Linked DNA regions of Homo sapiens: region 1 is linked to region 2. The links come from fine-mapping of genetic effects on gene expression. A gene starts in region 2. The other region holds a variant in brackets. All regions are shown on one strand. Distances are from middle to middle.

The links.
Region 1: its variant is fine-mapped to the expression of DUBR in caudate (GTEx, PIP above 0.99).

Annotation. Positions count from the first base shown.
Region 1 is chr3:107,335,832-107,338,638 of GRCh38, reverse strand. No RefSeq gene overlaps it. Among named protein-coding and RNA genes, the nearest start is that of CCDC54, 40 kb to the left of the region's middle. The variant G/A (reference allele first, on the strand shown) is at 1,517.
Region 2 is chr3:107,239,388-107,242,194 of GRCh38, reverse strand. DUBR (DPPA2 upstream binding RNA) reads right to left here and starts at 1,503. Exons shown (of 4, transcript NR_028302.1): 1 at 1,108-1,503. It overlaps LINC00882 (long intergenic non-protein coding RNA 882), which reads left to right and starts at 1,557. Exons shown (of 4, transcript NR_028303.1): 1 at 1,557-1,752.

The sequences.
Region 1 (2,807 bases), 96 kb before region 2:
TTTCCCAGCACCATTTATTAAATAGGGAGTCCTTTCCTCATTGCTTATTTTTCTCAGGTTTGTCAAAGATCAGATAGTTGTAGATATGTGGCGTTATTTCTGAGGGCTCTGTTCTGTTCCATTGATCTATATCTCTGTTTTGGTACCAGTACCATGCTGTTTTGGTTACTGTAGCCTTGTAGTATACTTTGAAGTCAGGTAGCATGATGCCTCCAGCTTTGTTCTTTTGGCTTAGGATTGACTTGGCGATGCGGGCTCTTTTTTGGTTGCATATGAACTTTAAAGTAGTTTTTTCCAATTCTGTGAAGAAAGTCTTTTGTAGCTTGATGGGGATGGCATTGAATCTATAAACTACCTTGGGCAGTATGGCCATTTCCACGATATTGATTCTTCGTACCCATGAGCATGGAATGTTCTTCCATTTGTTTGTATCCTCTTTTATTTCATTAAGCAGTGGTTTGTAGTTCTCCCTGAAGAGGTCCTTCATGTCCCTTGTAAGTTGGATTCCTAGGTATTTTATTCTCTTTGAAGCAATTGTGAATGGGAGTTCACTCATGATTTGGCTCTCTGTTTGTCTGTTATTGGTGTATAAGAATGCTTGTGATTTTTGTACGTTGATTTTGTATCCTGAGACTTTGCTGAAGTTGCTTATCAGCTTAAGGAGATTTTGGGCTGAGACAATGGGGTTTTCTAGATATACAATCATGTCATCTGCAAACAGGGACAATTTGACTTCCTCTTTTCCTAATTGAATACCCTTTATTTCCTTCTCCTGCCTAATTGCCCTGGCCAGAATTTCCAACACTATGTTGAATAGGAATGGTGAGAGAGGGCATCCCTGTCTTGTGCCAGTTTTCAAAGGGAATGCTTCCAGTTTTTGCCCATTCAGTATGATATTGGCTGGGGGTTTGTCATAAATAGCTCTTATTATTTTGAGATACGTCCCATCAATACCTAATTTATTGACAGTTTTTAGCATGAAGGGTTGTTGAATTTTGTCAAAGGCCTTTTCTGCATCTATTGAGATAATCATGTGGTTTTTGTCTTTGGTTCTGTTTATATGCTGGATTACATTTATTGATTTGCGTATATTGAACCAGCCTTGCATCCCAGGGATGAAGCCCACTTGATCATGGTGGATAAACTTTTTGATGTGCTGCTGGATTCGGTTTGCCAGTATTTTATTGAGGATTTTTGCATCAATGTTCATCAAGGATATTGGTCTAAAATTCTCTTTTTTGGTTGTGTCTCTGCCCAGCTTTGGTATCAGGATGATGCTGGCTTCATAAAATGAGTTAGGGAGGATTCCGTCTTTTTCTATTGATGGGAATAGTTTCAGAAGGAATGGTACCAATTCCTCCTTGTACCTCTGGTAGAATTCGGCTGTGAATCCATCTGGTCCTGGACTTTTTTTGGTTGGTAAGCTATTGATTATTGCCACAATTTCAGAGCCTGTTATTGGTGTATTCAGAGATTCAACTTCTTCCTGGTTTAGTCTTGGGAGGGTGTATGTGTC[G/A]AGGAATTTATCCATTTCTTCTAGATTTTCTAGTTTATTTGTGTAGAGGTGTTTGTAGTATTCTCTGATGGTAGTTTGTATTTCTGTGGGATCGGTGGTGATATCCCCTTTATCATTTTTTATTGTGTCTATTTGTTTCTTCTCTCTTTTCTTCTTTATTAGTCTTGCTAGCAGTCTATCAATTTTGTTGATCCTTTCAGAAAACCAGCTCCTGGATTCATTAATTTTTTGAAGGGTTTTTTGTGTCTCTATTTCCTTCAGTTCTGCTCTGATTTTAGTTATTTCTTGCCTTCTGCTAGCTTTTGAATGTGTTTGCTCTTGCTTTTCTAGTTCTTTTAATTGTGATGTTAGGGTGTCAATTTTGGATCTTTCCTGCTTTCTCTTGTAGGCATTTAGTACTATAAATTTCCCTCTACACACTGCTTTGAATGTGTCCCAGAGATTCTGGTATGTTGTGTCTTTGTTCTCGTTGGTTTCAAAGAACATGTTTATTTCTGCCTTCATTTCGTTATGTACCCAGTAGTCATTCAGGAGCAGGTTGTTCAGTTTCCATGTAGTTGAGCGGTTTTGAGTGAGTTTCTTAATCCTGAGTTCTACTTTGATTGCACTGTGGTCTGAGAGACAGTTTGTTATACTTTCTGTTCTTTTACATTTGCTGAGGAGAGCTTTACTTCCAACTATGTGGTCAATTTTGGAATAGGTGTGGTGCGGTGCTGAAAAAAATGTGTATTCTGTTGATTTGGGGTGGAGAGTTCTGTAGATGTGTATTAGGTCTGCGTGGTGCAGAGCTGAGTTCAATTCCTGGGTATTCTTGTTAACTTTCTGTCCTGTTGATCTGTCTAATGTTGACAGTGGGGTGTTAAAGTCTCCCATTATTATTGTGTGGGAGTCTAAGTCTCTTTGTAGGTCACTCGGGACTTGCTTTATGAAGCTAGGTGCTCCTGTATTTGGTGCATATATATTTAGGATAGTTAGCTCTTCTTGTTGAATTGATCCCTTTACCATTATGTAATGGCCTTCTTTGTCTCTTTTGATCTTTGCTGGTTTAAAGTCTGTTTTATCAGAGACTAGGATTGCAACCCCTGCCTTTTTTTGTTTTCCACTTGCTTGGTAGATCTTCCTCCATCCTTTTATTTTGAGCCTATGTGTGTCTCTGCACGTGAGATGGGTTTCCTGAATACAGCACACTGATGGGTCTTGACTCCATCCAATTTGCCAGTCTGTGTCTTTTAATGGGAGCATTTAGTCCATTTACGTTTACAGTTAATATTGTTATGTGTGAATTTGATCC
Region 2 (2,807 bases):
ATACTCATATAACTGAATTTCATACAGCATAGAATAAAATTGTAAAAAAGACTTGTTACATGCAACGACACGGATGAATTCAAATATAATATAAAGGGAAATAAACCAAATACTATAAAATATTTACCAAGTAATTCATTTCATGTGAAATGTCAGAATAGACAAAACTAACAGGGGGATGAAGAATGCTACTATTAGTTAATTTCTTGAGCTGAGTTGTGGTTGCCCGGACATGTTTGTGTTAATCTTTGAAAGTTTACTGAACTGTATTTGTAATTTGTACACTTTTTTGTATGCTGTACTTCAACACGTTTTATTAAAAATATTTCTAAAAATCCAAATGTTCAGTAAGTTGTCCTATAATATGCATTAAAAAAGAATTAAAAAATACACAAGCATTTCAAAAGTTATTTTTTGTGGGTTAGGGTTATGGAGAATTTCTTTTCTGCTCTATACGTCTCAGAATTTTCCAAATGACCATAGTAGACATATATTACATTTATCACTAGAAAAAAATACTATTAAAATACAATTGTCTGAGATAATCTTGTACTACTTTTACACTAAACTAATTTAGTTCAAATGTGGGGACTTCAGCTTTTGCTCCCAGATGAAAAGAGCTTGTCATTTTGGAGCAAAGGAGGGCGTGGCAGTTGGTCGGAGTGTTTCCTGGTGGCCTAGGAGACTGCCAGAAACTCACCAAGGGCCACCGGCCTAGGGGGAGGAGCAGAGGTGCAGGTGCAGGGAGGGATTCAAGAGACTGTGAACTAAACCTGGGTGGGTCCCAGTCCTCACAAAACCTGGGTCCTAACTGCAAAACTATGGTCGGGCCTGGGAAGGGGCGGAGGACTCACTGGCGCTCTAGCCTCTGTGCTGGGTGAATTAGTGATTAGGCTCTAATCTTCACAGTCCTCATGATTCTATTTTTGTAAGGCCAGCAGCTAAGAGTGGTTTTTACATTTTCAAAACAAAGACGAATACGCTACAGAGACAGTTCCAGGCCCAAATTCTAGAGTATTTGCTTTCTGGCTCCTTACAGAAAAAGTGGGTAAACTTCTTGATTAGAGGGTCTAGGCAGAAGAATTCTAAGGTATTTAAAATTTTTACCTGGGAATGCGCTTGCTGGTGAGGCGGAGCCGGCGTGAAGCCAGTGTGCCCAGCGGCACTGGTACCACGCGATGCTGGATTGCCTAGGCTGGTCAGACGGAGCAAATCGGAATCCACGGAAGAAAATTCACCTCTTAAGGATCCAGTCCGGAAAGGGATGGCCGGGCTCTTCCTGGGCAGGGGTGCCCAAATGGATGAGGATGCTCTCTGCAGCCCTCGGCGGATCGCAAAGGAGCAGGGCTCCGGTCTTCTATCTGGGAAAACATGGTTGTCACTCGTGGAGAAGCCAACGGAGCCCCTGCGGAGTTTTCTTTCCTTTTCTCTGCTGCAGGCAGAAGAAGCGCATTGCGCGGTTCGCCGGGCTGTCTGCAACTTTGGGAGCTGCGCCGCGTGGGTGCGGCCAGCCGACCGGCGCGTGCGCAGTGAGTTCTCAGCGCCTCCCGCCGCGCAGGCTCGGCGTTGGCCTCCGCGGCCCGTGCGAGTGCGCCCTTCTCGGGTCCCCTAGGTCGCGGGGCAGCCGGGGCGGAAGGGGCTTGTTCATTATTTTGAGAGTTTGTTGTGAACGTCATAACCTTTCGTCCTTAAATATTGCCGATACTTGACCTACGCAAGAGACAATGTCATGTGATTCAGCCTAATATCTCAGTATGTATCCCCTAAGAATAAGGGATTTTTCTACATCAGGGTTTCTCAACCCCGCGCTATGGACATTTTGGGCAGGATGAGTTTTTGCTGTCTGTACCCGTAAGGTGGGGTGACGGGGTGGGGTGGGGGTGTCCTGTGCTAAACAATCACTATTTAGCAGCATCCTTGGCCTCTACCCATTAGATGCCAGTAGCAACCCCCTCCCCCAGTTGTGACAGCCAACGATGCCTCCAGACACTGCCAAACCCAAACGGTGTGGTTGGGGGGGTTGAGGGGGGGAGGGGTAGTGGTGAGGGTTGGGGGAAAAAGGAGAGGTACAAAGTTGCCTCAATTGAGGACCACAGGATCACAATGCACATCATCATACTTAGGAAATGTAACATTGTTATATTACAATAATCTATATTTCATATTTGAATTTCCTCAATTGTCCCAAAATGTCCTTCTTTACCCTGTAGTTTGTAAAATGTAAATCCGAGATTTAACAAGAATCACATAGTGCATCAATAAGAACCACATATTGCAGTTGTCAAGTCTCTTTCGCTTCCTTCAATATAGAGCAGTTCCCTAGCCTTTTTTGTTTGTTTCTCCTGGTATTGACATTTTTGAAAAGTCTAGCCCGGTGGTCTTCCAGAATATCCTTCAATTTGGAGATGTCAGATTGGTTCCTCATTATAAGATTCACGAGTAATAGATATGTACACACAAACATATATGCAGGAATTCTACCTAGGTGATGTATCCAATTTTATCTATTTTCAAATGACTTTTTAGCTGTCATAACATTTAATTTATAAAGCACCTCCCTGACCAGCGATTTGCAATATTTTTATCACATACGTAAATTTCCACATTGTAATTGGGTCTAAGATATATTTTCTTTTTTCCCCGCATTGATCTTATTGTCTACTTATGGGCTAATATACTGTTTTTATTAGAGACTATATTTCAGTATCTGGTAGGGCTAGACTGCATCATTGCTGTTTTCTTAAGTGTTTTTTTAATGCTGGGTTATTTTTTCATGTTAACTATAGAATATAGCCCCATAAAAGTAC